Homo sapiens: one gene and its partners. The gene in region 4 interacts genetically with the main gene of each other region. Each region holds a gene or a part of one and is shown on either strand. Other genes may lie near its edges.

What was found.
Region 1: changes in MST1R (region 4) and NPY4R together harm fitness less than expected from each alone (positive genetic interaction), as found in Homo sapiens cells (one large-scale study listed by BioGRID).
Region 2: changes in MST1R (region 4) and ATR together harm fitness more than expected from each alone (negative genetic interaction), as found in Homo sapiens cells (one large-scale study listed by BioGRID).
Region 3: changes in MST1R (region 4) and PRKAB1 together harm fitness less than expected from each alone (positive genetic interaction), as found in Homo sapiens cells (one large-scale study listed by BioGRID).
Region 5: changes in MST1R (region 4) and EDA together harm fitness less than expected from each alone (positive genetic interaction), as found in Homo sapiens cells (one large-scale study listed by BioGRID).
Region 6: changes in MST1R (region 4) and BCL2L1 together harm fitness less than expected from each alone (positive genetic interaction), as found in Homo sapiens cells (one large-scale study listed by BioGRID).
Region 7: changes in MST1R (region 4) and PRKCA together harm fitness more than expected from each alone (negative genetic interaction), as found in Homo sapiens cells (one large-scale study listed by BioGRID).

Annotation. Positions count from the first base shown.
Region 1 is NC_000010.11:46,462,867-46,467,573, forward strand, and holds the start of NPY4R (neuropeptide Y receptor type 4), read right to left. Parts: upstream 3,093-4,707; 5' UTR 2,812-3,092; intron 1,867-2,811; exon of another isoform or gene 1,020-1,866; 5' UTR 864-1,019; intron 1-863.
Region 2 is NC_000003.12:142,557,685-142,561,733, reverse strand, and holds part of ATR (serine/threonine-protein kinase ATR), read left to right. Parts: intron 1-312; coding exon 313-491; intron 492-1,279; coding exon 1,280-1,471; intron 1,472-2,292; coding exon 2,293-2,483; intron 2,484-2,957; coding exon 2,958-3,110; intron 3,111-4,049. UniProt on the Homo sapiens protein: Serine/threonine protein kinase which activates checkpoint signaling upon genotoxic stresses such as ionizing radiation (IR), ultraviolet light (UV), or DNA replication stalling, thereby acting as a DNA damage sensor.
Region 3 is NC_000012.12:119,677,828-119,682,363, forward strand, and holds the end of PRKAB1 (5'-AMP-activated protein kinase subunit beta-1), read left to right. Parts: intron 1-2,105; coding exon 2,106-2,174; intron 2,175-2,420; coding exon 2,421-2,498; 3' UTR 2,499-3,792; downstream 3,793-4,536. UniProt on the Homo sapiens protein: Non-catalytic subunit of AMP-activated protein kinase (AMPK), an energy sensor protein kinase that plays a key role in regulating cellular energy metabolism.
Region 4 is NC_000003.12:49,897,224-49,901,272, forward strand, and holds part of MST1R (macrophage-stimulating protein receptor isoform 1 preproprotein), read right to left. Parts: intron 2,041-4,049; coding exon 1,852-2,040; intron 1,773-1,851; coding exon 1,644-1,772; intron 1,466-1,643; coding exon 1,295-1,465; intron 989-1,294; coding exon 828-988; intron 463-827; coding exon 297-462; intron 194-296; coding exon 57-193; intron 1-56. UniProt on the Homo sapiens protein: Receptor tyrosine kinase that transduces signals from the extracellular matrix into the cytoplasm by binding to MST1 ligand. Regulates many physiological processes including cell survival, migration and differentiation.
Region 5 is NC_000023.11:70,028,395-70,032,443, forward strand, and holds part of EDA (ectodysplasin-A), read left to right. Parts: intron 1-1,109; coding exon 1,110-1,144; intron 1,145-2,074; coding exon 2,075-2,126; intron 2,127-4,049. UniProt on the Homo sapiens protein: Cytokine which is involved in epithelial-mesenchymal signaling during morphogenesis of ectodermal organs. Functions as a ligand activating the DEATH-domain containing receptors EDAR and EDA2R. May also play a role in cell adhesion.
Region 6 is NC_000020.11:31,715,928-31,719,976, reverse strand, and holds part of BCL2L1 (bcl-2-like protein 1), read left to right. Parts: intron 1-3,132; exon of another isoform or gene 3,133-3,356; intron 3,357-4,049. UniProt on the Homo sapiens protein: Potent inhibitor of cell death. Inhibits activation of caspases. Appears to regulate cell death by blocking the voltage-dependent anion channel (VDAC) by binding to it and preventing the release of the caspase activator, CYC1, from the mitochondrial membrane.
Region 7 is NC_000017.11:66,802,426-66,806,474, forward strand, and holds part of PRKCA (protein kinase C alpha type), read left to right. Parts: intron 1-1,447; coding exon 1,448-1,612; 3' UTR 1,613-4,049. UniProt on the Homo sapiens protein: Calcium-activated, phospholipid- and diacylglycerol (DAG)-dependent serine/threonine-protein kinase that is involved in positive and negative regulation of cell proliferation, apoptosis, differentiation, migration and adhesion, tumorigenesis, cardiac hypertrophy, angiogenesis, platelet function and inflammation, by directly phosphorylating targets such as RAF1, BCL2, CSPG4, TNNT2/CTNT, or activating signaling cascade involving MAPK1/3 (ERK1/2) and RAP1GAP.

The DNA of each region.
Region 1 (4,707 bases), on a different chromosome or scaffold from region 4:
TTAGAAGCACTTGTTGCATGCTGGGTACTGTGCTCAGCACTTTCGTCTATTAGCTAGTTTATTCCTAGAGGTAGATATTATCAATCCGTTTCATAGATGAGGAATCTAAGACCCTGAGATGGAAAGCAACTTGCCCATAGTCACACAGCTAATTAGTAACAGGGCCCAGTTACAAACTCAGGTCATCTAATGCCAGAACTTGTTCTACTAATTCCCTCCGGCCTCAGGATGAGGCTGTTCTGATGATAAAGAAGTTGGAGTGCTGTATGCAGACTTTAGTGACGGAATTGTTCAGGGAACATGGGTAGAATGCCCCTTGTCACATTTTATCTTAATGGAGACAGCAATAAATGCCACTCTGCACAGGATTGCTTGTGTCCTTCCACGGCACCCCATTCCCTTCAAGATAGAGCTAAAGCCTCGGGGATCCACAATCAGTGCACCCTCCTGGTCTCAGCCCCTCCCTGCCCTGGTAGCCTTGTTTTTTAGGTGATACCTGGCAAAACTGAAGACTGCCCAGTATGCAAAGCCTGGCTCATCAGCACACCAGCTTCTTCCTACTACCCACCATGTGCACAGACATACCTGGCCAAAGTCACAGGTGCCCAGTGCCCTCCACAGAACCTACTCCATGACTATGTTCAAGTCACTTGATGCAGTGTGCAGCTCACAAGCACACCAGACTCTTCCACATCTCTATGCCCTGGTACAGGCTGTCCCTTCTCCGAGGACCTCCTCAGCACAACGGACCCCCTGCCAAGACTGAGTTGGAATTTAGACTCCAGAGTTCCCCCGTGTTAGTGCCAATGATGGATGTTTTGCATGGGAAGCACCATACCACTACATACATCATTGTGACTCACCTCTCAGATTCTCTAGTCATTATTAATCCCACAGGGTTGCAGTTCTCAACCTTCAGTAAACATCAGAATCATTCTAGAAGCATGTTGAAAGTGCAGATCCCAGGGCCCTTCCACCAGGAGATGTAGTTAAGTGAATCCAGGATGGGGGCCAGGAATCTGTATTTAACAAGTAGACTATGTGATTCTGATGCACATGGCCCTTGGACCCCATCTTGTAAAACACTATAGCAGAAAACCCTATTTGAGATATTCTTTAAGTCTCATATCATGGCCATATGTATTTTTTACATGATCAATTGCTATGTTAAGGCAGTTTTTGCAGAGCACAAGGCCAAAATCAACCAGAGCTCAGTAAAATCTATTTGTCGGCTGTCATGAATGTCACTTGCTGTGCATCTGATCTACTTATAAAGATGAGTTTCTAAGGTCAGGACTTCAACACCTGCCTGGCCAACATGGTGAAACCCCGTCTCCGCTGAAAATACAAAAATTAGCCAAGTGTGGTGGTGCATGCCTGTAGTCCCAGCTACATGGGAGGGTGAAGCAGGAGAATCACTTGAACCTGGGAGGCGGAGGTTGCAGTCAGCAGAGAGTGCACCACTGCACTCCAGCCTGGGCAACAGAGCGAGACTCTGTCTCAAAAAAAAAAAAAAGAGTCTCATTTGGTCATTTAAAAGATCAAGCTGTGAATTCACCTGATAGTTTACAGTCTGGTTATTTAGGAACCAGATCTCGAAGGCAGGAAGATTTCTCCAGCACTATGGTCTTCGGGCAAAAAGGGCCATTTGGGGCTGAACATGGCAAAATAAACTATTCCAGAGCCAAACACAGGGCCCAATATAAGATAAAGAACAGTCGCAGCTGCATGAACCTGTGGCAGAGGCACTGCACTCAGAAGCAGCAAATGGGCCAGAACCCAAGGCTCTGGGTGACCATCAGCAAGGCTTGGCCAGTGGTGTGGAGAAACACCATTCATCCCAAACCAACCACCTAAAGCAGGATCAGAGTGGAAGGACTGGGCTGGGAGGGCTCCAGAAAATGCTCACTGCTTCATTCACCCACTCAATAAGTGTGTGTCAAGCCCTGGGCTAGAAACAAGGGCTGCAAAGATGACTTATACAGTCATGGCCCTCCCAGAGCAGAGGGGCTGACCAGCACGAATGCAGATGGAACTCATTGCCATTGCCAACACCAATATGAAAGAGAGGCCTGTGAGTTGAGAGATCAGAGAAGGAGCAGGGAGCAGGGAGGTGAGAGAAGAGGTGGCAATGGTACAGGGCTCAAAGGCTGAAGAGGAGTCAACCAGCCAAAGGGACAGGGAGAGGAGGGAACTCGAAGTGCAAGGAACAGCATGTGCAAAGGCACAGAGGCAGGAAGGAGCAGAGCCTGCTGGGAAAAGTAAGCAGAATAAGAGGTTCCAGGGTGGCAGATGATGAAGCTGGAGTGGTGGGCCAGACCAGCAAGGTCAGGTCCATTCCAGTAAGATCACTTGGATATAGAAAATGGATTGGCAGAGAGGGCCAAGACAGGAGGAGGAGGAGCACTGAAAAGGTGGTGTTGGGCATCTGCCTGGGGCTGCTGGGCTTGGGGTACACTGACCAGTGAGGACCAGGGGACCTCAAGTCCCTCAGGCACACCCAAGGGGGTGGCGAGTGTATGAGGGGGAGGGTAGATTATTACGCAAGGTCAATAAAATGGTGTCTCTGCATTTTGTCCCCAGGCAGCTCTCCAGATACAAAAACTAGAACCAGCTGCAAGCCCCAACAGGGACCCCCTGCAGCCTGCCTTCCCAGTCAATCAGAGGAAAATTAATGAATCATACACACAATGCTAATCTCCCAGTGGGGTTAGAATAGGGAAGGCCCTTTGCTTTGTCTCCTGAAATCTCAGCAAAAGCTACTATATCCTAATGCCCATAGCGCCCAGACACCTCAGATGCACCCCTTACCTCCTTGGCTTGCGGCTTACAGGGTGCGGATGGGGCCGCCCATGTCTCAGGTGAGGAGACTGAGGTCCACAGTGGGGGTAGGATGCTCCCCAGATCCAGTGTGACGCTCTGCGCCCCGGGCCAAGGGCAGGCAGCGCGCCCGGCTTCCCGGAGGGTTCGTACCGGGGCCCACTCGGCCCCGCCCCCGGCCGCACTCCTGTGCCCAGGGGGCACCAGGCGCGGGGCAGAGCCGCGCCTGCTTCACCTGCTCCTGCTGCCCCGATGCTGCCTGCGTGCGGAGTGGAGCGGCTGCTACGCTCCCGCCTGCGCCCGCCCAGCCTGCCCCTTGCGCCCGCCCACGAGAGGGCTCCAGCCGCCCGCCTGCCCCGGGACCCCAGCACTCGCCCTGGGGAGCCGCATCTTGAGCCCCCAAGGCCTGCCCGGAACTGCAGCCCTGCCTGCGTGTGTCTCTCACGCCCACCTCAACCCTGGATACAGGCAGGCTGGAGCTGCGCTGTCTTTCTCTCTTTCTTTCTTTCTTTCTTTCTTTCTTTCTTTCTTTCTTTCTTTCTTTCTTTCTTTCTTTCTTTCTTTCTTTCTTTCTTTCCTTTCTTTCTTTCTTTCTTTCTCTCTCTCTCTCTCTCTCCCTCCCTCCCCCTCCCTCTCTCCCTCCCTTTCTCTTTCTCCAGGAGTGTTTCTCTCTGTCTAGGGGTGTGTGCGTCTGCCTGTCTCTCTCTCTCTCTGCCTCAGTTTCCTCATCCATGAAATGGGTATAAAAAGACCTGCCTTTCATAAGTTCGTCCAGAAACATTACTTGCAGACCTCCTATGAGCCTGGCTCTCCTGCTGGGCACCAGAGCTGGACAAGACAGGCTCCCTGTCCTTGGTTCCTTCTGGAGCTCTCAGCCCTGGGGGAGAAGACAGACAGGGTACAAGGAAAGAGGGAAATAAATTATTACAGGGGGTGAGATGCTGTGAGCAAATGGGTTCGATAGGCCAGATGGATGGCACAGCCACGGCAAAAGCCCTGAGGCTGGGAGCATTCAGCCCCTGGAGACCAGGGGAGGGCAGTGTGGCTGAGAATGTCAGCCAGGGTGAGGGAAGGAGATGGGCATCCAGGGTGTGAGTGAAAACTCAGGGTGGGCCCTGGAAGTGGAGTGTCTTATCTCAGGCAGTCCCAAGGTTGTGGCGATGAGAATTCAATGAGAATGGTCACTTTCTCCTTTGGAGCTGAGATGCACATGACTTGGCTATAATGGAACAGCTTTGCTTACAAGGGCTGCTCCTGTTTTGAATACACTAGCTTATAATTCCCTGCCCCCCATCCCCACATGGCAAAGTCACATATGCGCTTAGAGAACCTCCTGAGAGTAACAGATCTGCTTCAAGAGCACCTCCTAAACACTGGACATACACACCTGTCCAGTGAACCTCCTGTGGCTCCCCATGGAAATGTCCCCATGAAGTCATGGCAGTGGTCCCTCTAGAATGGCAGCTGCCGTTTGTAGTGCAGAGACTCTGCAGACACTACCTTAGTTAATCATCACAACAGCTCTGAGAGGTGGGCATTTTTATTCCCATCGTGCTGATGAAGCAAAGTGACACTCAGTGGTTGAGCAACTTGCCCAAAGTCACTCAGCTAAGAAACAGCCAGATCCAGGATGCGAACCCACCTGCCAAGCCCCCAGGCCTCTGCTCACCATCGCTGTAGACTGGCACCTGTCATCTCTTCTTTCTGGACCATGCTCCTTCCTGTCTTGACTACCTGGAAAGCGGCTGCTCCTCCGTTGCACCCCAGCTCCGATGTCCCTGCTGCCATGACAAATTCCTACCACCCTCCCATGCTCTGCTGCAGAAGCAGATGTAGCAGCCTAGTTGGTTGTCTGCCTGAGCAGCTTTGTCTCCCCACTCCCCTATG
Region 2 (4,049 bases), about 93 Mb from region 4:
AAGTTACATGAAGAAAGTTGGTAATTCCCTTACAGAATTTTTTATAAGGGAATTAAAATTTATAGCATTTTGGTAAGAGGAAAAACAGGATGTAGAGAGAAGGATTTGTTTAAACCTTCTAAGACTATAGAACCATAGTCTATATATAGACTTAAATAATATAGATCAATTTAGATGTTTATTTTGCTTTATGAGACTCTAAAAGTAGTTTCACTAGAAAACACCTAACATCTAATACATTCTTGCTGCCTATGAATAATATAAATATATTTTCTAAGGAATATTTCTGGAAATTATTTTTTATTTTCTCAGTACTTGTTGGGCCCACTTTATGCAGCTTTGAAAATGGAAAGTATGGAAATCATTGAGGAGATTCAATGCCAAACTCAACAGGAAAACCTCAGCAGTAATAGTGATGGAATATCACCCAAAAGGCGTCGTCTCAGCTCGTCTCTAAACCCTTCTAAAAGAGCACCAAAACAGACTGAGGAGTATGATGACCTTCATTCAGTTTGTATTTAGCCATTAAATAAAACTTTGTTCACTTTTAAAAATCAGCTTTAGTTAAGTGCTTTGATTTAAATACACAAAGAACATCTTTCTAAATGTAGCCAAGGGAGTGCTTAAAATATTTTTATAATTATTGTAGACGGTTAGTAGTATAAAACATTTCATGGTTAAATATAGTTACTTTGCATGTTTTTATATGCTTATCTAATTTAACTTTTTAATATGTGAAAAATCTTTGAGACTGTGCATCTATTAGCAATTTTTAAAACATTAACCAACTATTTTTTATAAAGTGGCTAAGTTGCCATATTTCAGTTACTTCTGAACATTGTTTTAATTGTTTTAAATCTTAGTATAAATTTCAGGCTGGGCGCGGTGGCTCACGCCTGTAATCCCAGCACTTTGGGAGGCCGAGGCGGGCAGATCACGAGGTCAGAAGATCGAGATCATCCTGGCTAACACGGTGAAACCCTGTCTCTACTAAAAATACAAAAAATTAGCCAAGCGTGGTGGTTGGCGCCTGTAGTCCCAGCTACTCGGGAGGCTGAGGCAGGAGAATGGCGTGAACCCGGGAGGCGGAGCTTGCAGTGAGCCGAGATGGCGCCACTGCACTCCAGCCTGGGAGACAGAGTGAGACTCTGTCTCACAAAAAAAAAAAATTTTTTTGAATAGTTGATATTACATAGTATGTTTTATTCTAAATATGTTTCATGTTTTAACCAAATTTATATTGCATATGAATATCTCTCTACTATATTCATAATTATAGAATTAAACATGTGGACATGAACCAAAAGAGCATATTATGGAGTGCACTGAAACAGAAAGCTGAATCCCTTCAGATTTCCCTTGAATACAGTGGCCTAAAGAATCCTGTTATTGAGATGTTAGAAGGAATTGCTGTTGTCTTACAACTGACTGCTCTGTGTACTGTTCATTGTTCTCATCAAAACATGAACTGGTAAAACAAACTTCTTGTTTCTTGGGGTTGGGTTTCCTGTAATGAACTTGGATTTACTGTTTACTCATTATTCACTTGACTCATGTAACCTTAGAACACAAACTTTTCACTGAAGTAGTTAATAAATTTATTTTCTATTGAGTCAAATGCTAGGTACGGTGCTAAGCACTGTATATATCTTAGTTAATATTTACAATAGTCCTGTAAGGTAAAGGCTATTATGCCTATTTTAAAAATTAGAAACTGACACTCAGAGAAACTGAGGCTCTTTTTTGTCTGAAGCCAAAACTGACTTTCCTGGGGACACATGATTAGAAAGTACCAGAACACATTTGTGTACAACTCAAAACCCAGTGTTTGGCTGTTGAAGACAGGGTCTCGCTTTGTCTCCCAGGCTGGTGCACAGTGGCATGATCATGGCTCACTACAGCCTTGATCTCTATCCGGGGCTCAAGTGAGCCTCCCATGTAGCTGGAACTATAGGCATGTGCCGCCACACCCTAATTTAGAAAAAATTTTTTTTGTAGAGATGGGTTTCCCTATATTGGCCCGGCTGGTCTCAAACTCCTGGGCTCAAGTGATCCTCCCACCTCAGGCTCCCAAAGTCATTTGGTTCCCAAATCCTAAGGGTGATTTAAGCTGACATAAATAGATTCAACTTAAAATAGTAATAACATATTACTTGATTTGCATGTTTACTTTAAATTGTTATAGATAAATTTCGTACTCACAATTTCTTTTGGCTTTACTACAATTTTATGTTTGACTATAACAAAATTCATCTTAATTCCAATGTTTTTAACAAAATGTACTTACTGCAGCCGTACTTTCAAGGACTGTCAACATAAATCCAAGAAGAAACCTTCTGTAGTGATAACTTGGATGTCATTGGATTTTTACACAAAAGTGCTTAAGAGCTGTAGAAGTTTGTTAGAATCTGTTCAGAAACTGGACCTGGAGGCAACCATTGATAAGGTGGTGAAAATTTATGATGCTTTGATTTATATGCAAGGTGAGTACAAATTAGCAACAGATCAGAATAACCTTTAAAGATAATCAGTATAGAAATATGCTTTCTTTTTTGCCTGAAGCCTAAGTGCGTGTTTGGAATACTCAGAAGTTTTTTCCTGATTTCAGTTCTATTAAATTTGTCAATAATAGAAGTTCTGAGTTGCCAATTTATGTGCATAATATTTTGATTCTTTAGTCAATAGAAATTATTTATAACTTCAAAGTTTTTTAATTTGGGAGTTTGAGGAATGCCGTGATTCTTCTTTAAAACAGGCATAGATAACATGTTTTTATAAAGTCACATTTAATTTCTTTGGGTTCACAGACCTCAGACCATCGTTTATAGATCTCTGTGTTAAGAATTTCTGCTTATCCAATGATCATTATGATAGTATTTCAAATGTCTTTATTTTTATTTAAAAGAGATATGATTAAGGAAAAGTTATAATTAATGACTTATTTTGTGCTTCTGTAGTAAACAGTTCATTTGAAGATCATATCCTGGAAGATTTATGTGGTATGCTCTCACTTCCATGGATTTATTCCCATTCTGATGATGGCTGTTTAAAGTTGACCACATTTGCCGCTAATCTTCTAACATTAAGCTGTAGGATTTCAGATAGCTATTGTAAGTGCTCACAAGAATGTGTGTGTGGTTTGTTTTATTTATCTATCTATCTATCTATCTATCTATTTATTTATTTATTTATTTATTTATTTATTTATTTTTGAGACGGAGTCTTACTCTGTCGCCCATGCTGGAGTGCAGTGGCGCAATCTCGGCTTGCTGCAACCTCCGTCTTCAGGTTCAAGCAATTTTCCTGCCTCAGCCTCCTGAGTAGCTAGGATTACAGGTGCGCACCACCATACCCAGCTAATTCTTATATTTTTAGTAGAGGCGGGGTTTCACCATGTTAGCCAGGCTGGTCTCGAACTCCTGACCTCAAGTGATCCACCTGCCCCAGCCTTCTAAAGTGCTAGGATTACAGGCGTGAGCCACCATGCCTGGCCTTGTGTGGTTTGTTTTAACTCATCTCTATATAGGACTTCTAAGACTTATTTATATTTTTTTCAATAATTAAAAGAGCAGGTACATTTTTAATAGTTCAGAAGGGGGTTAGATACATAAAAAGTAACACATAAAAGCCTGCCCCACATATCCCATTTCCTTTCTTTTTGTAAAACATTTGCAATGTGTCCTTACATATCATTATCTTCATTTAATAAAATTAGGAAGTATTTGAGAAATATTTTAAAAAGAAGAACAATATACCAAAAATTCTTATACCAACTTCTCAGTTTAAGAAATAGAAACATTAGGCCAGGCACGGTGGCTCACGCCTGTAATCCCAGCACTTTGGGAGGCCAAGGCATGCGGATCTCTTGAGGTCAGGAGCTTGAGACCAGCCTGGCCAACATGGCAAAACCTCATCTCTTCTAAAAATACAAAAATTAGCCAGGCATGGTGGCTCACGCCTGTAGTCCCAGCTACTAGGGAGGCTGAGATACAAGAATCTCTTGAACCCAGGAGGCAGAGGTTTCAGTGAGCCAAGATTGCACCCCTGCA
Region 3 (4,536 bases), on a different chromosome or scaffold from region 4:
CATCTTGGCTCACTGCAAGCTCCGCCTCCCGAGTTCACGCCATTCTCCTGCCTCAGCCTCCCGAGTAGCTGGGACTACAGGCCCCCGCCACCACGCCCGGCAAATTTTTTGTATTTTTAGTAAAGATGGGGTTTCACCATGTTAGCCAAGATGGTCTCGATCTCCTAGCCTCGTGATCCACCCGCCTCGGCCTCCCAAAGTGCCGGGATTACAGGCGTGAACCACCGTGCCTGGCCAGGTTTTGTTTTTTCTAGAAAAGGGAGGCATCACTAGCCATCTTCTCTGATGGAGACTGCTGCTGGGAATAGACAAGCTGAGAGTGGCCCAGGGGGCTGGGAATATGAGAATGTCAGGACCCCTCTGTCCAAGGTAGCACTAAGCTCTAATGTAAACTGTGGTTACAGTTGTCACTACTAAAGGGTTAACATTTATTTTGCCCCAAACTAATCTTAAGTGCTTTTCGTGTATTCTTATTCAAGCCTCACAACAACCATGTGAAGTAGGTGCAATTATTACCCCCATTTTAGGGATGGGGAAACTGAGGCACAGAGCAGTAGGGAGAACACTTAAAATCTACTGTCTTAGAGATTTTCAAGAATACATTGTTACTAATAGTCACCGTGTTGTACAGTGGATCTCTTGAACGTATTCCTCCTGTCTAACTGAAATGTTGTATTCTTTGACCAGCATCTCCCTACCCCCACCACTCCTAGCCGCTGGCAACCACCACTCTACTCTCTACTTCTGTGAGTTCGACTTTCTTGGATTCCACATAAGTGACATCACATGGGATTTGTCTTTCTGTGCCTGGCTCATTTCACTTAATGTCCTCCAGGTTTATCCATGCTGTCACAGATGACAAGATTCCTTTTGTAAGGCTCAGCAGCACTGCATTGTGTATCAGTACCTCATTTCTTTATCCATTCATCCATTGTGGACACCTACGTTGATTCCACGTCTTGGCTATTATGAATAGAGCTGCAGTGAACGTGGGAGTACAGATATCTCGACATGCTGATTTCATTTCCTTGGAGTATCTACCCTGTAGTGGGATTGCTAGACCATGTGGTAATTTTAGTTATAACTTTTTAGGAACCTTCATGCCATTTTCCATAATGGTTGTACTAATTTACATGCCCATCAGCAGTGCACTAAAAGTAGCTTTTAAGTGTTCTCACCACAAAAACATGGTAAGCATGTTCTGCGTGTGTTGATGAGCTTGATTTAGCCATTCCACAATGTGTCCATATTTCAAAACAACATATTGTACATGGTAAATATACATAATTTTATCTGTCAATCTTTGAAATTGATTAATTTTTTAAAAACCCCTCTTAGGCTCACACAGCAACTGGCTGAGCCAGCAGTCACATCAGGCTTGGCTGGTGCCAGATCCTTGGTAGTTGGTGCTCTCAGCAGCCACCCTGAATGGCCTCCCAGCGGGAGCTTGCTGAGTATTTGTTGACACAATGATTGGCCCAGCCTCTGGGATCCTAAGCCTACAGCAGTTGTTCTACACTTTTTTCCATTTGAATTGCATTTATAACAGTTGGGGGTATACAATGAAAAAATAAATCCCGATTTCTGGCTTCTCTTAAAACATAGGAAGGTGCGGCGGGCAGCTCTGAGTGCCAGCCCGGTGGCAGATTTTCCAGAGTAGTGGTGTCTTGCCCAGGTATCCGTTTCATTCTTCAGGTTCATTGAGTCTTACAGATACAAGTTTTGAATCCATTGCTCAGGAGCGTTTAGTGCAGATGGTCTCTTCCTGTGTTCTCTGAAAGTGCTGTTAATAGCTGCTTTCTTCCTGCCCCACCCTCCATAAGAGGACAGGGCCGTGGCCCACACTTGAAAGAGGCCGGGGTAAATGCCTGGCCAGAGACACACACCGATGCCTCCAGCAGGCATGCAGGGAGCTCCCTTCAGGTCAGAAGGCGTGACCTTCATCTCACCTGTCGTCTTGGACAAGCCCTTGCGCTGCCTGATTTGGGAAGAGAGGTCGGCCTGAGCGCTGCCTCCTGTCCTTTGATATCTGGCACTGGGAAGTAAAGGGGAGAATCTTGGTTTCCAAATCCCAAATGCTCACCGCTGCCTTTGTTCCCTCACAGTGTGATCCAGCTTTGCTTCCTGAGCCCAATCACGTCATGCTGAACCACCTATACGCGCTGTCTATCAAGGTAATGACATGTCTGTCCCCATGAGAGCTGTGTTGCCCAGTGTGTGCTCTGAGGACCCCCAGCAGTGGAATGACCTGGCGGGACTGACTTAAAGGGCAGCTTCCAGGGTCTGGCACAGGCCATCAGGCTCAGGTTCTGAAGCTGGCCCGGGAATTTGTGGTTTTATGAAGCCCTTAATGATTCTCATGTCCTCTGAGGCTTGAGCCCCTTAGTCCAGCCTTTGATCATTTCCACCTTGTTCCTTAGGATGGAGTGATGGTGCTCAGCGCAACCCACCGGTACAAGAAGAAGTACGTCACCACCTTGTTATACAAGCCCATATGAAGAGCTGGGGGCGGATGGTGGCCCAGGAGACAGCACACCACCAGGCTCCACACGTGCATGCTTTCCCCAAGAGGGAATGGACTGTACATTGCTCATTTCACACTCTTCAGAAGACATTTCATACCTGCCCTGGTCCTGCTTGAAGGTTTGTCCAGGCAGAGCAGCTCCTGCAGCGCCTCGGTCTGTGACAGTCCTCCTAGCACCCCCATGGCTTTGAGCCTCGGGGACTCATCAAGTCCAAGAAAAGAGGGAGGGGTGGCAGAGGATCTGCAGCCCTGGCCCCGCGGTGCATGAGGCTGGGTGCAGTTCTAAACCTACATTCTCGATTTTTCTTAAGCCAAAAATGAATGCTAACTCCTTTGCCAGTAAAATTCTGGGAAACAGGGACTGAGGCCACACATCATTTCCAGTCATCTGTGTGTTTTTAAGGCCAGCCACTTGTCCCTGTTGAGGCCTGGCTATGGAACTAAATACAGTGTTGGTCTTGCCTGTCCTTCAAAATCAACAACAGATTGTCTCTCGGCTCCAGGGAGGTGTCATTTCTATAGAAATTAGAAGCTTTCTGATTTCTAGATGAGGTTTTACAATTGTTTCTTACAGTCATGTGCACTAAGTACTCTTTTTGTAAGCAGAGGTGGCTGGCTCTGCAGCCTTAAGGCCATTTTTTAAGTCACCACGTCTAGAAGTCACATGAACTCTGCTCAGCAATAATCTGTTCTCAGAACAGACTTTTCAACCTGCTGCCGGATTTCTCCATTCAGCTGGATGATCCTCAGGACTGACCAGTTAGCTGGCAGGTTGTCCAGCTTTTTATTCCAGTCATAATAGGTGACAGTGTTAACCGTGAAAACTTGAGAGGCACTCTGCCCTCTTCCCTATAAAATCACACAGCGTGATTTTACAAGGTCCCGTGGCACCTTGCTCAGGACCTCTGCCCCTAGTTAGCAAGACTGCAGCAGTTGCTGTTGCTTATTCTGAAAGGAATGTAGAACTTGACAGCAGCCTTCTGAGTCTGGGTCAGGAAGATGTCCTTTGGACCAAAGCAGACTTCTTTATACGCAGCTCAGTTTCCCGGGAGTCGCCACAGATGTACCCACTAGCCCAGGTTGCTGTGAGTCAGCGGAAGCTCCCGTTATGCCCTTTGCTCCTGGTGGGAGAGGGAGGAGTGAGCTCCCTGGGTTCCAGTATTTACTTGGTATACCTGAGTTTGGGGGTACCCTTTTTTGTGACTTTTCAAAACAGTGAATTACTGTCACCTTGATGGACAAGTTTCAATAAAACTTTGTAAAAATAATTGGACATGTGCCTGGAGGAGCTCTGATTTTATTCAGTCCCTTGGAGAAGAGACTGGAACTCTTCGAGAGTTGCGTTTCAGTACCGTTCTTGTGGCTCTGAGCGGACAGGGCTACTCCAGCTGCCCAGGCCTGAGAACCAGTCCTGTGACTCACACCCATTCACACAGTTTGGAACCTTAAGGGACCCCTAAAACTGAGCCCCTCTGAACAGCTCAAGTCACAAGGGGAAGCTGAAGAGGGGTAACAGCAGAGGCTCCTGGCTTCGGCCAGTTGTTGGTGTCCCCAGGCCAGAGGGTTTGTTTCCTTTTGCTCCTAAACAAGCCCGGTGGGACAGCCTGGGATCGTGACCCTGGCGTGTGAGAGAGCAGGACGTTGTGGAGTCAGAGCTGTTTTCATCCACTAAAAGAGGCCGTGTCCCTCCTCCAAAAAGGTGGAAGGTTATGGGTGTTCCTTTAAGCCTTCTCAGGTATCAGGAAACATTTTAAATTTAGCAGAAAAGCATGCTAATGAGCTCTACCCACTGGTGCAGAAAACCCAAGCTGAAAATGCTATGTAAAATAAGACTGGTTTACTGGAGCCAGTCACCCCATGAGTTCTCCAAGCCCTGGGGCCACAGGGGACTTCCAGGTGAGGTCACTGCTGAGATGATGGAGGAGACACAAAACAAGAGGACATGGTCAGAGACAACACATCTCTGTGCGTATTCAAAGGATTTCATTTTCTTTAAAAAGCACATTATAGTC
Region 4 (4,049 bases):
GGGTCCCCACCTGGATAGAACCCTGCGGCCTCCCATGCCTGCCTGGTGGTACTTACCGTGCTAGCAGACACTCAGTCCCATTGACCAGCACAGCCCGGCTGGTGCCTACAGACAGACTCTGGCCTTCAAGAGTGAGACAGGTGCCTCCTGCCCGTGGGCCAAAGAGGGGTTGCACTGCTATCAGCACTGGCTCCTAAGAGGACATAGAGGTGGCTTAGGCAGGTCCTCCACTCCAAGCCCCTCCCTTCCCGTACCATGCACTGGCCAAGGGCACAGACAGGGCAAGGTAGCCTCACCATGAAAGAGAAGCCTCTCAGCACGGAGGTGCCGTCTACCCGGAAGTGCTTGCCCGGTGGCATGTTAGTCACGGTGAGGCTGACGTTGGTAGGCCCCACTGCCTGGGTGCCCAAGGGCTCCAGTTCACACTCAAACTCCTCTACAAAGTCTTTCCGGGGCACTGGTCTGGGGCACCAGGGGAACCCCTGAGGTCAGCCAGGAATTACACAGGCCTAGATGCATGCCTGCCACAAGCCACAGGGCTCCTCTGAGCCAGAGAATGGCATTTCTCCACCCATGCCTCCCTCCATGGAAGGAAGGTTCTGGTGGGGCAGAGATTAACCTTGGCTGGTCCATGAGTGAACAGACAGGAAGGGCACATGAAAGCTCAAAAAGGGACAGAGACCTTTTTGACTCTCAAAAAGCAGTCAGAACCACTGCAGCTTCCCCCATCCCCCCTTGCCTCTGATAAGCAGAGAACAGGGTCTCATGGGGAAGGGGCTGCTTGGTTTCCCCCTTCAGGGAAAGGGAGGGGAGGGACCAGATTGTACCTGAGTTTTGAGCTGTCCTTGGGCAGTGGCCGGCAGGGACTTTGGCCCACAGTGACCTGATGGGTTCCCTCAGGCACCAGACCAGAAGGGTGAAGGTAGAAGTTGGAGCCACACAGGGTCAGCCTTGTACTGCCCCTTAGAGGTCCACTGTGGGGGTGGAACTGAAATGGGGGAAACAGCCTGAGTCCTCATGTGGGGTTGGGCTCTCTCAGCCCCACCTGCTTCCCCAAAGTCTCCTGCCATACCCCTTGCCTTCCCCACGCTCCAGCCATTTGGAGTCACTTGCATTCAAGCACTTTCCTGCCTCCAAGTCTTTGCATGTGGCATCCCCTCTGACAAGAATGCCCTCCTTGTAGATATGAAGGACACCCCCCAGACCTGAGAAAAATTGTGATCAAGACTTGCTGACCACCACCCCAGGCCCAGCCTGTCCCACTCTTACCTGTGCCCTGCCAGGGAAGCCATACCTCAGTAAGCTTAGGTGGGCAGTGGTCCTGTTGCCAGGAGCCAGGACACTCCTTCTGCTGGCCGCACATGTTCCCACACCAGCCACAGCCCATGAAATGCCATGCCCTTAGGCAACGCCCACAGGTCAGGAAGTGGCGGCAGCCAGGGCCTTGGATAGGTACCTGGAAAACCTGTGGGTGAAAGACAGGTGACTCAGGGGTGCCTGGAGGGAGAGATTGGGCCCTATAGACCCTCCCGGTACACAGTAGGCTAGGGTGGTAGGGCCTGTATGTCAATGCCTCCCTGGATTGGATGGAGAGTCTGTGATCCCACAACCCTGGCCCCAGGCCCTGCCCCTGCCCACCTCACCTGGTCCCCAGAGGCAAAGAGTAGGTGGTCCCCAAGACGACTGACATCCCGCTGCACGGGCTGCCCACTGTCACCCAGTGAGAAGTTGGACACATACAGCAAGTAGTTTAGTGACCTGACCAGCTCCACCTAGGACAGGTCAGATGTGAGCAAAATGGGGATGGAGACAAGGACCCAGGGCTAGGGGACTGTGGGGATGAGGACCCACCTGCAGGATACGCCCATCCATTGTGCCCATGTGTGCCACTGTGACGTTGTCAAGGCGTGTCACATACAATGCAGTGACCTGTACTGGTCCCAACAGCCCATTGAATAGGTCCACACGTGAGAAGCTGCTACTGACCAGCAGAGGGAAGTGGCGGCAGCTGGTGTTGGGGCTGAGGGCTTCCAGGCCAGGCTGGGAAAGGTCAGGGAAGGGAAGGAGTCAGGGTTCAGCCTTGTGCCCCGACCCTCTGGGGCCTTTGTCAGTGGCCACAGCAGCCCAACACTCTCACCCCTCACCTGGCCTGACTGGAGAAGGCCCTGGGCCTGCCGGTTACCATCCCACATTGCCCCCACAGGGCTCTCAGTGTAGCAAGGGCAGGGAGAAGGCCCAGGCTGGAAGGTCCACTCCTCATTCTCCCTGCCCCACCCTGCCATGCCCATCCTGATGGTGAGTTACCCCCATTCCATCCTCACAACCACCCCGTACATCTTTTTTTTTTTTTTTTTTTTTTTTTTTTTTTTTGAGACGGAGTCTCACACTGTTGCTGGGGCTGGAGGGCAATGGTGTGATCTCAGCTCACTGCAACACCTCCCGGGTTCAAGAGATTCTCCTGCCTCAGCCTCCCGAGTAGCTGGGATTACAGGTGCTCGCCACCACCCCTGGCTAATTTTTTGTATTTTTAGTAGAGATGGGGGTTTCACGATGTTGGCCAGGCTGGTCTCGAACTCCTGACCTTGTGATTAGTCCGCCTTGGTCTCCCAGAGTGCTGGGATTACAGGCATGAGCCACGGTGCCTGGCCCACCCCGTACATCTCACAGATGAGGAAACAGGCTCAAGAGGTTTGGTCTCTGGTCCAAGGCATCATAGACCCTCAAGAGGAGAGCCCAGTTGGAAGTCTCAGCTCCGCAAGAGTCTTCTCCTGCCCCCTGCTGGCTCTTCTCTGACTCTCTGTGTGCACTTCAGCAAACCCTGTCTCCTCTGGGCTTCGGTTTCCCCACTTGCATAAGGGGCTGAATGCTGGAGTTAATTGGCCAGCACAAGGTTGGGGACATGGTCCTTCTCCCTAGACTCCAAAGGTCTGCCTGTACTCCTGGCTGCTTCCTATACCCCCCTTCAGGGTACAAAAGGGATAAACCAAACCCCTACAGCCTGGGTGCCAGAACTAAGTTCTGGAAGCTAGGGGGTACTAACCTCTCCCCTGCTTTTAGCAAGGGGGTGTTTTTGGGGGCTGCAATCACGCTCCAGGGGAGGACTGTGGAAGCTCTGGGAAACCAGTACACCAGGGTATGAACTCGCGGTGTTGGAGCTGAGTGCGAGGTGCAGACGGGGCTCAGTAGCCAGCCCTAGGTGCTTAGGACTCTCTCTCACCAGCCCGGAGGGCACTCCTCGAAGCAGGAGCCTCTGAAGGCTCCATCAGACCACAGAGGCTTAACCCAGTCCTGAGACCTCAGCACTGATTAGTAGCCCTGGAGGCAAAAGTAGATGTGGAGCTGAGCCTCGAAACCCCATACACCTTGTGCCTACAGCTTGGGGTGGGTGGGGACTGGGATTTTGTCCTCACTTGAGGCAGGAAATCGGCTTGGCTTGGCCCGAGCCGGAAGGCTGCCAGGTGTTTCTAGCATGACTCAGGGACAGGTGGGGCTCTGAAGGGGAATAGAGCCCTACCTTAGTCAGGCCCACACCCTAGCCTGCTTGTCCCTAGCCCCAGGACCTTAGCTCTACGTTCCCAGGCTTAGGTAGGGGCCCCCAGCTCCTGAAAACACGTAAGTGTCCAATGTCCCATGGAGGACAGGCACCAGCTCTGAGTCCCTCAGGCCTCCTGAGGCCAACCACTATGTGGGTGCTGCCCTAGTGGCTGCATGCCCAGAGTTGCTGGGCAAACACTGCACGGGGTGATTCACACACCTCCTGGGGGCCTGGCCAGCCTGTGAGCAGGGACCAAGATTAGTCTTCCTGGAGCCTGGCACTGCCCAGCCGTGCTGGGTGTCTTCTGACCCACTGACCACTAGGCAAGCTGGGGAGAGGTTCTGACTCCCCATTGGGAAGGAGAAGGGGCCAGGCAGGCCTGCCCAGGCCCAGACAAGGAGTCCCCAACCCTAGGGCCTCTCAACCCAGATGTACTCAGCAGAGGGAGGGAGGCTAAAGACCCCCAACCTCACATTGGGTGTAAGTTCTCCCATCTCCGAGGCATCAATAGGAG
Region 5 (4,049 bases), on a different chromosome or scaffold from region 4:
TAATCTTCTGTGATTCCCAGCATCTAGCTCCACATGCTGATGTTTGCATAGAAATAGGCTATGGAGTAGAAAGTTGAGGACTGAACAAAATGACAAGCCCTAGGATAGTTTCATCTTGTGAAGTCTGAAGTGCTTTTCCCATAGCAAGTAGTCACTAATGGTCAAGAAGTTAGAAACTTAAGAGTCACTCAGGCTGTGGATGAAGCAAACCCAGGCACCAAGGCTGTCCTGTCCGGGAACCAAGTGCTTCTTGCACTAGATCCTTACCCTACCACACTTGCCATTCAAATGTCATTTCATCCCTTTGCATCTTTCTCCTTAAGCCCTGAAGGGCATCCGAAAGGTATGAATGCAGATCCAAACCTGCCTAATTGGAGTTGACAAGAGTCAGACTGCCTGGGCTAATGTCAGTTGTTATTTCTTTCTCCTGCTCCTCACTCCCCTGCCCTGTATCTTGGGGCTTTAAAGAAATGGACCCTTACAGCTGATTTCTCCAGGGGCAAGAATTCTGCAGCAGGATTCAGATTCTTTAACTTGTACTTCACACAGGGCTCAGCAGTGTTACCATGGCCACAAGAGATGGAGTTAGAGATTTTTTTTCAACCAATCATTCCTTAAATATTGAGCACTTTCTGTATACAAAGAGATATATTGATACATGGTCCCTTTTCTTATAGAGTTTATCTCCTAGAGGAAGAGAGAACAAAGAAACAAGATATTTACAAATAGCAGTGGGCTCTATGAAGAAAATTAATAGAAAGGGAGCAAAACACTAGAGAAGCCAATGCCATTGCCTCAGGGTCACACAGTGATGGGAATGCTCTCTCATTGTTCTCCATGGGTGCCCGGTGGGGCTTGCCTTGGGCTAATATTGGCCAGAGGCAATACTCAGAAGTTTCCCTGCTGGGTGCTGGGCCCACTGAAGATGAAGGTCAGGGCAGGAAACAGAAGGGGTGCACTCTGACTCTTCCTCCAGCTCTGAGCCCTGGAGAATAAAGCTCAGACAGGGCTGGCTGCAGGGAGCATGGCTCACCACCACTAGCTGCTCAGGTGAGGGGAAAAGGAAGTCAAAAGATTATGCCCTCTGATTGTCCTATCCTATTTTGCAGGTGCTGCTGATAAAGCTGGAACTCGAGAAAACCAGGTTGGCTGGGGATTGCTCTCTTCCTGGGTAGGAGGGAAAGCCACAGGCTAGAGCCACCTTTAAATTAGCTTCTTATTAGATTTCCTGAGGCTTTATTTCATGAGAACACCCCGGAGATTCTGACGGTTTTCACTCACAGCCCCCTCCCATCTCTATGAATAGAAAAGCTTTGCCCCAGGGCATGTTTTTAGCTAAGGAAAGGGTGTCTTGCCAGGATCATTTTTCCTCATTCCACAGGAGACCCCAGGTTCACCATAGCCAGGCCCAGTAGTCAGCTGAAATAAGCTGCCAGTCAGACCTATTCACCTGAGCCTCCAACTCCCCAACCACCCCAGACACCTTGCCGGCTCTCAGACCACCTGGGATCCGGAGCTGAAGAGTTGAAGAGTATGTCCTTGAAAAACAGCCAACCAGCTCCAGGCCCAGCCTAGCCTGGGCGTCTGCCTTAATGGCCTGAAGAGCTCCTCCCAGTCTTTGAGCTTCCTAATCTGTCTCTATTGGCAGGTTCTACTGCCTTGCCTTGTCTCATCTCAGCCTCCCTTGCTACAGCTGTGTGGCCACAGTGATAAATCTACACAGCTGCACAGTGCTTGACGGCTTGCAGGGCAATTTTATATCCATCACCTCATTTGATCTTCAGACATCCCTGTGAGAGAGGCCAGACATTCTTATAATCCCCATTTTACAGTTAGGGAAATGAGGCTCAGAGGCATTACATTTGGTTGAGGTCACATAGCTAGGAAGCGGTAGAGCTACAAAATCATATTACCCTCTAGTAGAAATGTAGTCAGTAACATCCCAAGACAGGGGAGAGGGATCAGAATTGGATTACAATAGAAGACTAGAAACCAGGATGGAAACATGGGACTGGTGGCTGAGCAAGCAGCCATTACTCATAGTGACTACTCTCTATCCTTCTCATCCTGCCAGCCAGCTGTGGTGCATCTACAGGGCCAAGGGTCAGCAATTCAAGTCAAGAATGGTAAGAATCAAAATAGGCTCTCTCCCAAAGAGGAGCTTCTCCCCTGCCTCCTCCCCAGCCTCCAAATAATCACCCAGCCTAGTTCCTCCCAGGCCGCTGAGGTACCGTTGGCATACGAAGTCATTCTTTGCTCCATCATGCCCTCTACTGGCTGTCCTGAGCAATTGCTGGCATCAAGACCAGTTGCTACACCCAAATTGCTTTAGAATCACTGATGACGGAGCTGAAAGGGACTTGAGACATCATCTAGCCCAGGCATTCTCAGGGGATGGAGGTTATATCAGAGCCACCATGGAGATATGTGTAGTTAGATTAATATTTTCACAATACAAATTATAGAAAGTAAAACTATGTAAAATTAAATTTTTCTTGTCTGATCTACACAGGTGGGCAGACAGGCTGCATCTCTCAGGGAAGGTGGGGCATGTTAGAATCTCCAGGGAATTTAAGATGCTAGTGTCTATCAAAAAGGAGAACATGTTTAATGGGGTTAAGAAACACTGATTTGTTGTAATCCCTGCATTTAAAAGATGGGGAAACAGAGTCCCAGAGAGATTGGATAATACCATAATAAATCATGCTGTCTCATATTTGTACGATACTTTAGAGTTCTCAGCATACTTTCTTTGTCTTTAATTTCATTCAGTCCTCACAACCACCCTATGAGGTAGGTATGAGCTCCTTTTTACAAGACAGAAAGTGAAGTTCAGAGAGATTAATTAAGTTTCCCAATATTTCTTAGTCAAGTTAGTTTAGGAGCCAGGATTCAAAACTACATCTTTCTGACTCTTTCCTCTCCCCTGTGCTACTTCAGTGATATGTATGTACACTCCACTGAATGATTAGGTTCATTTTCTTCCCCCAAAGAAACATGAACATTCATGAAAGAACAGCACTTTGGAATAATGTCCAGTCCCCAGAGTGCACAAAGCCTAAAATGCGTGAACCCCCAGGAGCCTTGGGAAGCAGCAAGCTAGCCAAGATGCCAGATGCTTACAGAGCTTGGGGTGGAAGGGAGGGGTTGTGAGTACAGAAACGGTAAAGGAAGGTTAAAAAAAACAGCTACATGGGGACAGTTTCTAAGAACTCAGTCAGTCCTGAACTGGCTGTGCTGAGTTTCCTTAATGACTGTATTTAGCTACTTCCCTGACTGCCACCTCCATGTCTGACTTAGTAGCCTCAGAAGTGTAAATAGGAACACAATGGCACCAAAACCCAATTGGTCCTGCTGGGGACCCCAAGGCCCTGAGTGGGCCATGATCCCCACCTGTCCAGGGAGGCCAGAGACAGGCCAAAATAGATTTGTTTGGATATCTAGATGGATAGTGTTTATTCTGTGCTAGCAGCCACTGATTTTGCTCCCACTGCCACATAATAAGATTGTTTCCAGCCCCTCTGGGCCAATCCTCAGAGGTGGTCTGTGCTGACCTTTAGTACTACCAGAAGAAGTGATGGGGGTGGGGTGCAGTGACTCACACCTGTAATCCCAGCACTTTGGGAGGCCGAGGCTGGCGGATCACATGAGGCCAAAAGTTTGAGACCAGCCTGGCCAACATGGTGAAACCCCGTCTCCACAAAAAATACAAAAATTAGCTGGGCATAGTGGCACACACCTGTAATCCCAGCTGCTCGGGAGGCTGAGGCAGGAGAATCACTTGAACCCGGGAGGTGGAGGTTGCAGTGAGCCAAGATCACACCACTGCACTCCAGCCTTGGTGACAGAGTGAGTGACAGTCCATCTCAGAAAAAAAAAAAAAAGAAGAAGAAGTGATGGGGTCAGGGGTTGGAGGACGTCATGCAGAGTGGTCCATTGATGGGACAGAGCCAGGGCAGCTCCTAGCCCATCTACTTACCACCTCAAGGAAAGATGGTCACCTTTTCCAGAAAGGCTGTTTCCTCACCCCTCAGACAGGCAGGCCTACT
Region 6 (4,049 bases), on a different chromosome or scaffold from region 4:
TTTTGGGGCAAATATTTGTTCAGCTGATTACAGGAGGGACAGGATTCCAGTACTGCAGACACACCCTCTGAGGCATCTCCAAGTAGGGATTGAGGCTGCTTGCCCACTTTGCCTGACTATTGTCTTTGGCCAGTGGTCCTAATACCAGGTGGGTTGTTGCCAGCTATAAACAAAAGGCAGTCTGGGAGAGGTGCCTGGTCTGCTAGCCAGCCTCTGCAGAAGGCTACCCCTACCAGAGAATTGCCAGCTGCCCAGTGGTGCATATGAAAGAGGTCTTAGACACAGCAACTCTGGGTAAGTTTATTAGATCTCCATGGGGTTGAAATTCCATCTTCCATCTCTTTGCTTAAGAATCATCAGAGCCTGTTGGACAACATACCACATGTCACTTCCTCTTGGTGAACAGAGGGGATGTGTGTGGAAGAGCCAGTTATATCAGAACCATTTCTGAGCACACATTCTCTCCCTAAGGCCAGGGAGTAAAGAACATTTGACTCAGGATCCTTTGAGCCTGGGTAGAAGGTACCCGCCCCCTTCCTCTCAGGTATTATCCTGTTCCAAGCTGCACCGACTGGCTACTGTGGTGGCATCGGGTAATTATCCTGGAGACTGCGGCTGGGAGATCCTTAAGGGTAGGAGTTATGGGCTATTCTACTCAGGGCTATGTTCTAAATTTAGCATCCCTACAGGAAAGGGGAAGGAAATTAGTCTTTATTGAGTACCTGTTAAGTACTAGGCACTGTGTTAGGTCCTCTACTTATGCAACCAGTGTTTCTTGAGCATCTACTGTGAAGCTAGCAGTGTACTAGGTGCTGGCCATAAGCCACGCATGGTACCTTCCTTCATGGAAACGGCATGCTGTTTCATATATTCTACAGTAACCTTCCAAGGAAGGTGAGTTTATTCCCAGTTTACACATGAAGGTCTTTGTGCCTAAGTGACTGACCCCAGGTGTCCCTCAGCCAGTTAAGTGTCTGAATGAGAATTTACACCAAGGTTGGCATAATTCTAAAGCCAACACTTTTCATCCTATCAAGTTGTCCAGGGAGTAATAAAGTGACCTAGACATGCTGGCCCAGAAAGCCAGAGATGCTGTTGGGCCAAGCAAACCATGCCTGTGAAGGTGCTCACTCTGGACTGATAACTGGCTTTGTTCAGGTAGCTATGGGAAGGATAGTTGGCAGTAGCAGGTTCCCAGAGGCGTGTTGGTAGCCTCAGATTCTGGCACTGGTAAAACTCAGACATGGCAGGTTTCAAGTGGGCATCAGGGTTTTGCCCAGAGTGAGCTGCTTATTAATTTTTTCTTTTTTTTTTTTTTTTTGAGACGGAGTCTCGCTCTTGTTGCCTAGGCTGGAGTGCAGTGGCGCGATCTCAGCTCACTGCAGCCTCTGCCTCCCGGGTTCAAGTGATTCTCCTGCCTCAGCCTCCCAAGTAGCTGGGATTACAGGCATGCGCCACCACACCTGGCTAATTTTGTATTTTTAGTAGAGATGGGGTTTCTCCATGTTGGTCAAGCTGGTTTCAAACTCCCAACCTCAGGTGATCCGCCTGCCTCAGCCTCCCAAAATGCTGGGATTACAGGCATGAACCACCGTGCCTGGCCCCGGCCAATTTTTTCATTGTTAAAACCCTCTCAGGCCCTGCCAATAGATGACAGTGGTGTGCGTGTGGGGAGAAGGTGGCCTGCCCCAGGTATCTCTACTTAGTGGTGGAGTGATGCTTCAAGGACTGAAAGTGTAGACCCTTAGCCAGATTACTGCCTGCCTGGAGTCACCTGATGAAATGCTGAACCTGTTCGGCTGTCTTGTCCATCTGTCTCTCCCGCCTGTAAAATGGAATAATGATAGCCAGCTGCCATAGCTTGACTCGAGTAAAGGATCTAGCACAAAAGCCCTTCTCCTGCCATAATTGTAGGGTGGAAACCCTTTAATGAATGGGCAGCTTCCCTCAGAGAACTGACTCTTCCCCCTAGAGTTTCTCCTTGAGAAACAAAGTCCCTGTGATACTTTCCTGGAATGTTGTATACATGACCTTCCCCGAAGGGACACAAGTGTTTCTGGTGCTTTCCAATGGGAATGTGGGAAGGGACCCAGGTGGGCCTTGCCACTTTGGGATTGCTGTCCCTGAAGAAATCCCTTAGCCTGATAGAAACGTAATTGTTGGGAGCAATGAACTGTGTTGGGGGAGAAAACATAACTTGGCCTTTCTTAAGCTGTATGGCTCAGTGGTCTGAGTTTCTGTAGATCTCTTATTGCCTAATGTGGCTTCTTCAGATGGATGTATGCTTAGTTGAAGCACCTCAGCTCCCTTTGCAGATAGTGGCAGTTCTGTGGTTTTCTTAGGGAAACCCCATTAGAAACCCCAAATGTGGAAATTTTTAGTAATCTCATTCGGGTCCCAAAATTAAGTAGAAGTGTCTCAGGGGCTCCCCCTTGAAACACCTACTTCTTCTGAGTGTACATTTGAGGTTGCTCTTAAAATTCTGTTACCATCACAGGGTTTTCCAGACTTCCTAGGAATAATTTCCCCAGTAGCCCCACAGAGCCCTTTAGCTTCTGTCGAAAATTACCCGGGTATTTTTTCAGGGGGCTCCAATGGAACCTGGAGGGTTTTCTTGACTTTTGTATGGGTGTCCCCAGATTTGTTTGGGCTGCATGAAACAGCAGTTGTTATCTCTGTCCCTTCCCCCAGCAGATATCTGTCCTGAGGCCAGTGGGCTTGAGCGTCCTCCTCTGTGTCCAGTCTCCCTGGTTTTGCCAGTGCCCTCAGCCTTCCATCATGGGGCTTTCTTGAAGCAACTGTGGTTTTGCCTGAGTTTAATGTGGATAGACATAGGGGTAATTCCCAGTGTACTGCTTTTCTACGGAAGTATAATCTCCTACTGCCTTAATTAAGCAGAGGCCCTGTCCCCACCCAACCTCCAACCTAATTCCACAGAGTCCTCCCTAAGGACTCCCTCTTTTTTCTTTGAAGGAGTCACTCTACTCCTGGATCCTCTTCTCTTCTGCCCCTCTATCCGACAGTCTGTCTTCCTTGTTCCCAGTTGGCAGACCTGAGTCAGGCAATCCCACTGGGTCTTTTTGTTTAGCCTGGGGAAGAGAAGACCCAGGAGAATATCACCAGCTTCAGATATCTGAAGGAAGAGGGACTGAGTCTTTTTTTATTGGTGTGGTACCTGGCAAAACTTGGATAAATGAAAAGAAGTTAACAGTTGGTAGAGCTTAAATTATGTGCAGAGAAGACATTTCTAACAGATTTACTCTGTCCTAGATTTAGGAGCTCCTCAGGGTGGAGGCCACATCTTGTCCATGCTTGTTTCCTCAGCACTGAGCAGAGGCCTTGGGCATAGCAGATACCTAATTGAAGAGAAACCCACTAAATTTCTGAAGAAACAGACCCTTGTCAAGCCAGAATAACAATAATGGGAGTGGCTATTTACCTAATAATTCATTCGTTGAGTCAAACAATGTTTATTGAGCTCCTACTGTGTACCATACTGGGAGTATGGCAGTAAACAAAAGTAAGCAAAACTAAGTTTCTGTCCTCATGGAGCTCACATTCCAATGAGGAGTGACAGGCAATAAATATATAATTACATGTTTATATCAGATGATTGTACATGCTATGAAGAAAATAAAGCAGGTTGGGGCATAGGGCATGTCTAGCAAGGGAGGGTGGGGCTGCAGTTTTAAAAGAGTGATCAAAGAAGGTGTAAGGGAGAAAAAAATGGCTTTCCTCTACCCTTCTAGGTCCTTTGGCTGGGCTGAGAATTAAATTGACATAGACAGATTAACTGGAGGAAAAATAATTAATTACATAGTTGTACACAGGAATCCTACAAAATATGAGGCTCAAAGAAGGGTCAGATAATTGAAGCTTATATAGCATCCTGAGCTACAGAAAAGAATATGGGGCTTGGGACTTCTGTTAGGGGCTTGAGTGGCAGCAACCCAAGTTATGGCAGGGTGAGGGAAAGAATTGGTGGTGGCGTGTGTCTGTGGTCCCAGATACTGTTGAGGGGGTGTACTGAGGTGGGAGGATCACTTGAG
Region 7 (4,049 bases), on a different chromosome or scaffold from region 4:
GAGGCAGGAGAATCACTTGAACCCAGGAGGCAGAGGTTACAGTGAGCCGAGGTCACGCCACTGCACTCTAGTCTGGGCGACAGAGCAAGACTCCATCTCAAAAAAAAAAACGAAAGTAGGTTCTCAAGCACACCTCCTAGAAGATAAAGTGTGAAAAAAGAGCTGAGAAAGCACAGCCCGTGAGACTCAACTGCCTTATAAAAACACTAGCAGCACGTGCTGGCCTCTCGCCTCGGCTGGGTTCTGTGCAAAACCCCATACATTTCACCTTCCTGACAGCCTTGGGCAGGAGGTGTGATTGTTCTCCCAGTGTTACAGATGAGCAAACTTGGTGGACCCCACTTCACAGTTAATCCAGAGCTATTCTCTGTTAGAGACCCAAGGATGCCTGGTTAGTTTGAAATGTGTGCTAGCTCAGAGTTAATTCATATTGGCCCTGTGGTGCTAGCAGCAGGTCCAAGGGCAGTAATTGGCAGCATCTTGAAAATCATTCTTAGGATCCTTAGTGAAACTCCCAGCTCTTCCTGCTTCAGAGTCACCCTGGGCTCCCGGGGACTTCAACACGCCACTACCCTTGTGGGTGGCTGACAAGGTGAAGAGAACACTCCTTCCCCACTTTTGGGGTCAGGCTACCAAGCCGTGCTGCCTAAGCGGCTGTGTGTCTCAGCGACCCCAGTGCAACAGTTCTGCCTGGAGTGGACCCTGGAGGAGAGGAACAGCCGAGACAGCAGGCCTCTCCCTGCCTCCCCAGGGCGCCATGCAAACATCCTCCAGCCTGAGACCACCCTGCAAATAAGCTCCAGTCAGTCACCCAGCCTGCCCGCTGGCCAGCTCTGTCTAGGTGTGCTAAATCCTAGCTGGGCCAGGTGCAAATCTCCCAGCCTTGCCGCCACACCTACCTCATATCGCTTGAAGCTTAATTTAGGGGCTGGGGTTGCTGGAGCAGCCCAGTAGGAAGGCAAGGATAACACAGTTTTTACTTCACTACAAATATTGCGGCAAAAAAACAGATGTGGGGCAGTAACTCACCCCGTCGCTTGGTCCAGGGGTAACTGCCTGCAGCCCCAGCCGACATCCTGGCCTTTCAACACGGAGCTGTGACTGACGGCCCTGCGTGCGTGGCTTCCGTGCTCTCAGCTCCGCTTGCTCGGTGAGGTGGACGTGAGGGGACAGGGGCTGTCCCCTTGTTGCTGCCTCATTGCCAGCCGTGCAATTCCCACCCAGGGCTTCTGTTCGGGGTGTTTCAGGGTTTACAGTTGGGTAACTCGTTGTTGTCTGCTGTGCCTGGCTTTTCAATCCAATAGGCCTGCAAGTCCTCCGAGATTCCTCCTCCTAACCAGCCCGGAGTTCCCCAGGGCCGTGCCCCTCCCCAGAGAGGGCCCTCGGAGAGCTGCTCCCGCATTGTCATGTTGACTGACCTTTCCTTCTTTTTGTCTTTTCTCCACAGTGTGGCAAAGGAGCAGAGAACTTTGACAAGTTCTTCACACGAGGACAGCCCGTCTTAACACCACCTGATCAGCTGGTTATTGCTAACATAGACCAGTCTGATTTTGAAGGGTTCTCGTATGTCAACCCCCAGTTTGTGCACCCCATCTTACAGAGTGCAGTATGAAACTCACCAGCGAGAACAAACACCTCCCCAGCCCCCAGCCCTCCCCGCAGTGGGAAGTGAATCCTTAACCCTAAAATTTTAAGGCCACGGCCTTGTGTCTGATTCCATATGGAGGCCTGAAAATTGTAGGGTTATTAGTCCAAATGTGATCAACTGTTCAGGGTCTCTCTCTTACAACCAAGAACATTATCTTAGTGGAAGATGGTACGTCATGCTCAGTGTCCAGTTTAATTCTGTAGAAGTTACGTCTGGCTCTAGGTTAACCCTTCCTAGAAAGCAAGCAGACTGTTGCCCCATTTTGGGTACAATTTGATATACTTTCCATACCCTCCATCTGTGGATTTTTCAGCATTGGAATCCCCCAACCAGAGATGTTAAAGTGAGCCTGTCCCAGGAAACATCTCCACCCAAGACGTCTTTGGAATCCAAGAACAGGAAGCCAAGAGAGTGAGCAGGGAGGGATTGGGGGTGGGGGAGGCCTCAAAATACCGACTGCGTCCATTCTCTGCCTCCATGGAAACAGCCCCTAGAATCTGAAAGGCCGGGATAAACCTAATCACTGTTCCCAAACATTGACAAATCCTAACCCAACCATGGTCCAGCAGTTACCAGTTTAAACAAAAAAACCTCAGATGAGTGTTGGGTGAATCTGTCATCTGGTACCCTCCTTGGTTGATAACTGTCTTGATACTTTTCATTCTTTGTAAGAGGCCAAATCGTCTAAGGACGTTGCTGAACAAGCGTGTGAAATCATTTCAGATCAAGGATAAGCCAGTGTGTACATATGTTCATTTTAATCTCTGGGAGATTATTTTTCCATCCAGGGTGCCATCAGTAATCATGCCACTACTCACCAGTGTTGTTCACCAACACCCACCCCCACACACACCAACATTTTGCTGCCTACCTTGTTATCCTTCTCAAGAAGCTGAAGTGTACGCCCTCTCCCCTTTTGTGCTTATTTATTTAATAGGCTGCAGTGTCGCTTATGAAAGTACGATGTACAGTAACTTAATGGAAGTGCTGACTCTAGCATCAGCCTCTACCGATTGATTTTCCTCCCTTCTCTAGCCCTGGATGTCCACTTAGGGATAAAAAGAATATGGTTTTGGTTCCCATTTCTAGTTCACGTTGAATGACAGGCCTGGAGCTGTAGAATCAGGAAACCCGGATGCCTAACAGCTCAAAGATGTTTTGTTAATAGAAGGATTTTAATACGTTTTGCAAATGCATCATGCAATGAATTTTGCATGTTTATAATAAACCTTAATAACAAGTGAATCTATATTATTGATATAATCGTATCAAGTATAAAGAGAGTATTATAATAATTTTATAAGACACAATTGTGCTCTATTTGTGCAGGTTCTTGTTTCTAATCCTCTTTTCTAATTAAGTTTTAGCTGAATCCCTTGCTTCTGTGCTTTCCCTCCCTGCACATGGGCACTGTATCAGATAGATTACTTTTTAAATGTAGATAAAATTTCAAAAATGAATGGCTAGTTTACGTGATAGATTAGGCTCTTACTACATATGTGTGTGTATATATATGTATTTGATTCTACCTGCAAACAAATTTTTATTGGTGAGGACTATTTTTGAGCTGACACTCCCTCTTAGTTTCTTCATGTCACCTTTCGTCCTGGTTCCTCCGCCACTCTTCCTCTTGGGGACAACAGGAAGTGTCTGATTCCAGTCTGCCTAGTACGTTGGTACACACGTGGCATTGCCGCAGCACCTGGGCTGACCTTTGTGTGTGCGTGTGTGTGTGTTTCCTTCTTCCCTTCAGCCTGTGACTGTTGCTGACTCCAGGGGTGGGAGGGATGGGGAGACTCCCCTCTTGCTGTGTGTACTGGACACGCAGGAAGCATGCTGTCTTGCTGCCTCTGCAACGACCTGTCGTTTGCTCCAGCATGCACAAACTTCGTGAGACCAACACAGCCGTGCCCTGCAGGCACCAGCACGTGCTTTTCAGAGGCTGCGGACTTTCTTCCAGCCATTGTGGCATTGGCCTTTCCAGTCTTGGGAGGAGCGCGCTGCTTTGGTGAGACACCCCCATGCAAGGTCCTCAGAGTAGCCGGGTTCTACCACAAACAGAAACAGAATGAAAGTAGCTGTCAGTCCTTGTAGAGAGCCGCTCTGTTTCCTCCCAGAAGCATCTCCCAGCTAAGCTCGCATTATTTTTCTCCTCTGGCTGTTTGCCTGAAGTTCACAGAACACACAACCATGAAAGGCTTTTTGAGGTGAGAGGCCCAGGTGGTCCTGGCAACCCTGAGTAGAAGGAGAGACGGGGTAGGGAACGGGCCCGGCCAGAAAAGAACCATTTCTTCTGCCATCTTTTATGCACCATAGACATCGAGACTCCAGGGGGTCCTGGCTCCCCTGTCCCTGCAGCCCTGCAGGTCAGTGCATGATCTGGGTTCGTGTCCTGACCAGG